Regions from separate parts of the Homo sapiens genome. Here region 2 is linked to region 1. The links come from fine-mapping of genetic effects on gene expression. A gene starts in region 1. The other region holds a variant in brackets. All regions are shown on one strand. Distances are between the middles of the regions. Region 1 holds the start of MRPL49 (mitochondrial ribosomal protein L49). Region 2 has its middle 16 kb from the start of SPDYC.

What was found.
Region 2: its variant is fine-mapped to the expression of MRPL49 in whole blood (INTERVAL, PIP 0.92).

What each region holds. Positions count from the first base shown.
Region 1 is chr11:65,119,957-65,124,344 of GRCh38, forward strand. MRPL49 (mitochondrial ribosomal protein L49) reads left to right here and starts at 2,365. Exons shown (of 4, transcript NM_004927.4): 1 at 2,365-2,468. The coding sequence starts at 2,391. FAU (FAU ubiquitin like and ribosomal protein S30 fusion) reads right to left here and starts at 2,178. Exons shown (of 5, transcript NM_001997.5): 1 at 2,134-2,178; 2 at 1,783-1,865; 3 at 1,544-1,688; 4 at 1,025-1,080; 5 at 674-850. The coding sequence starts at 1,857. The coding sequence ends at 725. RefSeq lists enhancers at 2,136-2,225, 2,386-2,655.
Region 2 is chr11:65,151,565-65,155,952 of GRCh38, forward strand. No RefSeq gene overlaps it. Among named protein-coding and RNA genes, the nearest start is that of SPDYC, 16 kb to the right of the region's middle. RefSeq lists a silencer at 1,150-1,329. The variant G/A (reference allele first, on the strand shown) is at 2,625.

The DNA.
Region 1 (4,388 bases):
GTTGGATGCTATTTCTCAAGAACTGGCAGGTCCAGAAACTTTAGCTGAATGAGTAAGTGGGGTTCAGAAGTGCTGGGAGGCTCAGTTGCCAGAAGAGAACCCTGAATCAGCCCCAGAGGTAACCCAACTTTTGGGAACACTGAAACCTCACTATATCCAATCACAGATGTGATTAGGTTACCAAGTCCGGCCAGGCAGTCACAGAGGTACAAACGAGGCCATGCTCCCAACATAATATTTACTTCTAAAACCAAGGCAGACCAGATTCCTGCCCTGGACTCTAAGGCCACAGCTGGTACCAAGTTCAGGGAACGGCCAGGTTCACCTTCTATACAAACCTCTTCCCCCACCCATCCCTTCTATTGCTGCCTCCATAACAAACCTCTCACCACAGTGATTCCTGCTACCTTCTCTGTTTAGAAGATGAAAAAGAATGACCTGGGGGGACTGATCAAGTTACTTAGGATAGGGAATAACCCCAATTTTACATCTGAAGCCCCCCAGGATCTGTAGCTGTTTCTTCACAGGAAATTTCTCTTGTAGTTTACCATTTCTTCCCCCCATACCAAAGGCTTCTGCCTTTTCTGCCTCACTGTTCTCCTAGGGGACATACCACCAACCCGAGAAGCACACCTCTCCCTGAGGCCTTGCAAGTAAAGATGAAACAATGCGATGACTGAACTAAGTGGCTTTTTTATTAGAGAAAGCCAGAATTACAAAAGACTTAAGAGTTGGCATTGGGGCCCTTCTTCTTGCCAAAGGTGGGCACAACGTTGACAAAGCGCCGGTTGTACTGCATCCGCCGCTTAGCCCGACCTGTCTTCTTCTTCTTCTTCTCCTGTTTGGCCACCTGGAGAAGGGAAGGTTAATCAGGCCCTGGTTCCTGTCTTCCACACCTAGCATCCCTTCCCTCAGGCTCATCTCCAGGGAGGGAGAAGGCAAACCGAGTAAGAGCCCAGGGACTTGGTTTAGCTGTGAAAGGAAAAAAAGTCCTAACACCATGACCACTAATACTCTCACTCACCTTAGGAGTCTGACCTCTCACTTTTCCAGCACGGGCCAGGGAACCATGGACTTTACCTGTAGTGGGAAAGGAAGGCACCAGCAGGTAAGAGCAAGAAGGTGCCACCCAGCAGAACCCCTCTTTTCTCAATTCAAGCCTTTAAAGAGAAGCTGCGCCCAATAGGTAATGAGAACAAAGTTGCAGATATTTGACCTTGAAATCTTAAGTTTCATTTCAGGATCTTCCAGCTTCTAATTTTATAGAGCACTTTGGGGGCCCTGGTCTGACCTAATTTTAGTGTGGAAGCTGATAACCAGACTAGGATCTCGTGATGTGACTGAAATACAACTACACTCTGGCTCAGTCTCCCATGGACGTCTGTGTTCAACATGAGGGATGTAAACAGGAAGAATCACTCTGAACTGAAGACAGTGAGAAGTACTCTATTACCATAGGTGTGACACTCAGCTGTCAGGACTATGCACCCCACACTCACTAGACGCTTACCGGTACTTCAAAGAACATTCCTCTCTCACTCACCTCCAAGCATGCGGCCTGCTACTTCCAGGGTAGTCAGGGCCTCCACCCCGCACTGGCCCAGAGTGGCCTCATCCTCCAGGGGCGCGCCTGCCAGGAGCACGACTTGATCTTCCGGGGCAATGCCCTCCAGTGAGGCTACATGAGCCTACAGGGAAAGATAAGGCTCGTAAGCGTTCCCTCGGGCCGCGAGAGTGAAGAGCACAAGAAAATGGAACCCAGGGCGCACCAAGCAGCCTTACCTTGATCTGGGCGACCGTTTCCTGGCCGGTCACCTCGAAGGTGTGTAGCTCCTGGGCGCGGACAAAGAGCTGCATATTGGCGACTGAGTAAAGAAAAGACGGCTTGTAAGAGAAGCCAAGAAATGCTCTGGGATAAAGGAGATTTGGGAGTGGAAAGCGGTCCAGAAACGATCGCGACGGGATGGTGGTCGCGGCGGCTCACGTGGGGAAGGCCAGGCCTCCCAAGGAGTTCGGATAGGGACTGGAGCAGGGCCACGGAGCAGGCCCCGTTCTTCGGTTCCCCCCGCGCCTTCTGACCCCGCAGCCAACCTGCTACAAGCCCTTCGGATCCAGCCAAGGCCCCATTCTTACCTGAACGGCGGTCCCAGCTACCGCGAAGATGGAGTCGAGAAAGAGGAAGAAGCGAGGGCGCGTCAGTACAGACCGTGGGCTGCGTGTCACGTCACTGCTGAGCGACCGCGCGGTTCCCTGCTATTTGTACCGCCCAAGGCAGTCCTAGCTCCGCCCCTTTACGCTCGCACCGGCGAACCTGCCTGGGCAGGCAGCTCGCGCAGGACGGGGCGGGACCAGACAGTTGCGCGCACAGAAGGCTGGCGTAGCAGGTAAAGATGGCAGCTACCATGTTCCGGGCTACGCTGCGGGGATGGAGAACCGGTGTCCAGCGGGGCTGCGGGCTACGGCTGTTGGTGAGAGCGCTGAGCGAGGAGCTGAGGGCATCGCGTGGGTGTGAGGCTCAGTGTTAATCATTGTTAACCCCGAAAACTAAGGCATTCCTACTTGGGGCCTTAGTTTTGCCGTTTTCGATCAGGAGAACTTGTCCCGAGTGTACATATAGAATCGAGAGGGAAAATGGTAGACTGGGGTGCTCTTTGGGAGCACTTAACACAGTGCCTGGCAGTGTCTATATAAGCCACAACGTTTCAGGTAAGGGGCGGGGTCCTAGCATATGAGTGTGCGTGGGGAATTATGATTGCCTTAATTCTTTTTTTTTTTTTTTTTGAGACGGAGTCTCGCTCTGTCGCCCAGGCTGGAGGGCAGTGGCGCGATCTCGGCCCACTGCAAGCTCCGCCTCCCAGATTCACGCCATCCTCCTGCCTCAGCCTCCCGAGTAGCTGGGACTACAGGCTCCCGCCACCATGCCCGGCTAATTTTTTGTATTTTTAGTAGAGACGGGGTTTCACCTTGTTAGCCAGGATGGACTGGATCTTCTGACCTCGTGATCCGCCCGCCTCGGCCTCCCAAAGTGCTGGGATTACAGGCATGAGCCGCCGAACCCGTCTGATTGCCTTAATTCTTAAGGCAATCATAAGATTAAACATCACTATATCCCGTCACAGATGTGATTAGGTTAGCAAGGCCAGCCAGGCAATCATGGAGGTACAAACAAGGCCACGCTGCCAATATAATAATATCTATTTCTAAAACCGAGACAGAAAGTTAAGCCTTAAGTTTCTAAAGGCTTGATTGACTTTTCAGAAGTGTACATATACTCTTTTGCATCCCACAGAAATCCTGAGAGGCAGACCATTCAGAGTACCTGAGCCTCCTTTCCATCCCATCTGTACCCTGCACCATGGAAAACCAAAGACTGGTGCTATCTTATGTCAACCTAAATAACAGACTCTAAAAGAAAAGGATATTTATTCGGGAATGGGTATAGACTATGTGCTTATCAGGGAGGTAAAAGAAGACAAAGGTTTTTAACAGAAAAATGGGCCAGGCACGGTGGCTCACGCCTGTAATCCCAGCACTTTGGGAGGCCAAGGCGCGTAGATCACCTGGAGTCAGGAGTTTGAGACAAGCCTGGCCAACATGGTGAAACCCGTCTCTAGAAAAAATACAAAAATTAGCCGGGTGTGATGGCGTGTGCCTGTAGTCCCAGCTACTTGGGAGGCTGAGGTAGGAGACTTGCTTGAACTTGGGAGGCGGAGGTTGCAGTGAGCCGAGATCACACCACTGCACTCCAGCCTAGGTGACAGAGTGAGACTCTATCTAAAAAAATAATAAAAATAAATAAAGGAAAGGAAAAATGAGTATTACATAATTGTTTTGAGACAGTTATCCTTGGCTACAAGGATGAATAACATGGGTGGTGCCAGTTCAAGATTGGACAGGCAGTTGTTGGACAGATGGCCATGCAGGAATTTGTTTTGTTTTGTTTTGTTTGAGAGAGTCTCGTCGCTCTGTCACCGAGGCTGGAGTGCAATGGTGCGATCTTAGCTCACTGCAACCTCCACCTCCTGGGTTCAAGCAATTCTCCTGCCTCAGCCTCCCAAGTAGCTGGGATTACAGGCATGCACCACCATGCCCGGCTAATTTTTGTATTTTCAGTAGAGATGGGGTTTCGCCATGTTGGCCAGGCTGGTGTTGAACTCCTGACCTTAGATGATCCTCCTGCCTCAGCCTCCAAGGTGCTGGGATTACAGGCGTGAGCCACCTTGCCCAGCCAGAAATATTTTTTTGTGTAAGGTTGAAGTGGCCTTTGTGCAAGGCTGTGGTTTTTGCAGTCTTTTGTGGTAGTTCTTGTTATTAAGTATTTGTGCCCAAGAACTCTCTCTTCGTGGCCCTCCCTAGCTCTATTTGTTGGGATTTTTAACCCAAGTGAC
Region 2 (4,388 bases), 32 kb after region 1:
TGATGACTTTGAGAAATCAAGAAGGAAGAGGAGTCGAGCAGAAGAGGAGGACCCAGAAGCTTTGAAAGGAAGAGAGAGGTTGGGCATGGTGGCTCATGCCTATGATTCTAGCACTTTGGGAGGCTGAGGTGGGAGGATCACCTGATCCCAGGAGTTTGAGACCAGCCTGGGCAACATAGTGAGACCCTATCTGTATAAAAAAATAAAAATAAAAAAGAAAGGAGGAGAAAGATGGCTGTTCCATTCTAGTAGGAGAGGAGGCAGAGAAAGTGTGTACAGGTGCAGATTCAGGTAAAATAGAGGAGAAGAAAAAGGGAAAGAGGCTGGGCGCAGTGGCTCACACCTGTAATCCCAGCATTTTGGGAGGCCAAGGGGGGTAGATTGCTTGAGCCCAGGAGTTCAAGACCAGCCTGGGCAACATGGCGAAACCCTGTCTCTACAAAAAATTAGCTGGGCTTGGTGGCACGCACCTGTGGTCCAAGTTATTCAGGAGGCTGAGGTGGGAGGATGGCTTGAGCCCAGGAGGCAGAGGTTGCAGTGAGCAGAGATCAAGCCACTGCACTAAACAGCCTCGGTGACAGTGAAACCCTGTCTCAAAGCAAAGAAAGAAAAAGAAAAAGGGAAAGAAGTCATGTTGGAGCTTTGCAGAGAGAGGAGAGGGTGTGATTAGTTACCTCAGAAAGTGGAAATGTGATTCTGAATGACATTTTTGTAAGAAAAAAAGTGGAAATGCGAAGTTTCTAGACATCTGCAGTGTGATTGCCAGGGAACATGAATGGCCAAGGAGTTTTGTAGCTGAGTTGAAAGTGAAACAATCCTCTGGCTGTCTGATTTCCTCTTATTCCAGTACAGGCACCAAGTAGGATGGTTCAACCAGGGCTTGAGTCTCCCAGGTGAGGTGGTTTTAGGAATGTCCATGCATTCTAGATGCTCCTCCTTTCTTTCTCTCTCTCTTTCTTTCTCTCTCTCTTTCTTTCTTTCTTTCTTTCTTTCTTTTTTAGACAGAGTCTCGCTCTGTCACCCAGGCTGGAGTGCAGTGGCACGATCTCGGCTCACTGCAACCTCTGCCTCCCAGATTCAAGTGATTCTCCTGCCTCAGCCTCCTGAGTAGCTAGGATTACAGGTGCGTGCCACCATGCCTGGCTGATTTTTGTATTTTTAGTAGAGATGGGGTTTCACCATGTTGGTCAGGCTGGTCTTGAACTCCTGACCTCATGATCTGCCCGCCTTGGCCTCCCAAAGTGTTGGGATTACAGGTGTGAGCCACCGCGCCTGGCCTGATACTCCTCCTTTCAAGACATGGAACCTCGCTCCCCTCCCGCGAATGTAAACTGGACTTAGTGACTCACTTCTAAAGAATAGAATCAATGAAAGTGATGGTGAGAGACCTAGGAGAGCTGGCACAAACACACTTTGGCTTCCTGTCTGCACTGTCTCTTGGATCTCTTGCTCTGGGGAAGCCAGCTGCCATGTCATGAGACACTCAGCAGCCCTGTGGACAGGTTCACATGGTGAGGAACTGAGGCCCCCCAGCCAATAGCCGTGTAAGTGAACCACCTGGGAAGGCGATCCTCCAGCCCCACACAAACCCTCAGAAGACGGTAGCCCTGGCCAGTATCTTGACTGCAAACCTCACGAGAGACTGTGAGGCAGAACCTCCAAGTTAATGCTCCCACATTCCTGATCTACAGAAACTGTGAGATAATACATTTTTTTTTTCATTTAAACCACAAAGTGTGGGGTAATTTTTATTTATTTAGGGCAAAGCTGACACATTCCAGATAAGGCTCCCAAACTCGAGATGCTCTCTCAACAACTGGCCCAAAGGACTTTCTGCGCAGCCACTGCCTCTCCTGCTGCTCCTTGCCTCAAGTCCCCTACTACATGGTGTGATATGCACTTGTGGGGTCTAGTTCACTGCACATGGCAAGATGCACTCTCTGCAATCCTTGAGATTGTTCAATTTTCTCCTGTAATCTGTTAAGGGGGCAAATCAGATTCATCAGTTTTCTCATCTCTAACCTTGCATTTTTAGAATAAATCCAGCTTTGGCACACTGCGTTCTCTTCCTATATATTACCAAATTCATTTTGCTAATAATTTGCTTAGGATTTTTCCATCTGTGTTTATGAGCCTGCAGTATTTCTTTCTCATGCAGTCTCCATTAGGTTTTCATGTCAAGAACACTACCCTTGTGACATGTGGAGGGGAGGTCCTTCTTTTCTTCAATACTCTGGAAGAATTTATACAAGATAGAATTATTTGTTTTTTCAATGTTTGGTTAATCTTACTGGTGGAGCCATATAGGCCTGGAGTTTTCTTTGTGGTAAGACTTTGTCTACTTATTCAATTTGTTTAATGTTATAGGACTAATCAGGGTTTCTATTTCTATTTGTTTTAGTTTTGGTACACTATATTTTTCTATAAGGTCTTGTTCATTTTTATATACATCTAAATATAAAAGGGCTCTTCAAAAAGCTCATGGAAAATGCATCTTATGAAAAAACAATGCATGAATTTCAAAAATTTTTGGTACCAAAATAAACTCATACTAACTTGTTATAACATGTCTGGGGCCGGGTGTGGTGGCTCACGCCTGTAATCCCAACAGTTTGAGAGGCCAA[G/A]GTGGAAGGATCACTTAAGCCCAGGAGTTCAAGACCAGCCTGGTGGACAAAGTGAGACCCTGTCTCTATTACAAATTTAAATTTTTTCTTTTTTCTTTTTGAGACGGAGTCTCGCTCTGTTGCCCAGGCTGGAGTGCAGTGGTGCGATCTCGGCTCATTGCAAGCTCCACCTCCTGGGTTCACACCATTCTCCTGCCTCAGCCTCCCAAGTAGCTGGGACTACAGGCGCCCACCACCACGTCTGGCTAATTTTTTATATTTTTAGTAGAGACAGGGTTTCACTGTGTTGGCCAGGATGGTGTCGGTCTCCTGACCTCGTGATCCGCCCGCCTTGGCCTCCTAAAGTGCTGGGATTACAGGCGTGAGCCACCGCTCCTGGCCTGGAAAAAAAAAAAAATCTTTAAAGGGCACCTATTTTTCTTTTCTTTTTTTTTTTTTTTCTGAGATGGAGTCTCGCTCCATCACGCATGCTGGAATGCCGCGGCACGATCTTGGCTCACTGCAACCTCTGCCTCCCCAGTTCAGGTGATTCTCCTTCCTTAGCCTCCTGAATAGCTGGGACTACAGGCACACGCCACCACACCCGGCTAATATTTTGCATTTTTAGTAGAGATGGGGTTTCACCATGTTGGCCAGGCTGGTCTTGAACTCCTGACCTCAAGTGATCCTCCCCCCCTTGGCCTTCCAAAGTGCCGGGATTACAGGTGTGACCCATCATGCCCAGCCGAGGGCACCCATTTTTCTTTAGTTAATATAAAAAAACTGTGTTGACATGGTTAAATTCCCAGGATCCTCATTTCTAAAGAGATGGACCCAATGATACCATTGCTCACAAAAGTGTCTTAATCTTGTTGGAGGTTATGTTGAGAATCAAAGTTTATTTATTTTTATTTTTATTTTATTTTTATTTATTTATTTATTTTTTTGAGACGGAGTCTCACTCTGTCACCCAGGCTGGAGTGCAGTGGCACCATCTCAGCTCACTGGAACCTCTGTCCTCTGAGTTCAAGCAATTCTCCTGCCTCAGCCTCCTGAGTAGCTGGGATTACAGGCGCCTGCCACTGTGCCCAGCTAATTTTTATATTTTTAGTATATAAAACTATATATATAGTTTTGGCCAGGCTGGTCTTGAGCTCCTGACCTTGTGATCCACCCGCCTCGGCTTCCCAAAGTGCTAGGATTACAGGCGTGAGCCACTGCGCCCGGCCTATATTTTTTTATTTTTATCTTTTAATTCAATTTTTCTACAAACTTTTTGAATATACAGGTTGAGTATCCCTCATCTGAAATGCTTGGGACCAGATATGTTTCAGATTTTTTTTTTGAATGCTTGCATATATAATGAGATTTCTTGGGAATGAACCCAAGTCTAAACACAAAATTCATTTATGTTTCATATACACCTTATACACATAGCCTGAAGGTAATTTTATATATGTCATGTCAGTGCTTAAAAAGTTTGGATTTTGGAGCAGTTTAGATTTTAGATTTTCAGATTAGGGGTGTTTGACTTGTATTAAATTAATATGTATTCCTTACATAAAATATAAATATAAAACTTGGCAGGCCGGGCATGGTGGCTCACCCTTGTAATCCCAGCACTTTGGGAGGCTGAGGTGGGCGGATCATGAGGTCAGGAGATCCAGACCATCCTGGCTAACACAGTGAAACCCCATCTCTACTAAAAATAAAATACAAAAAAATTTGCTGGGTGTCGTGGTGTGTGCCTGTAGTCCCAGCTACTTGGGAGGCTGAGGCAGGAGA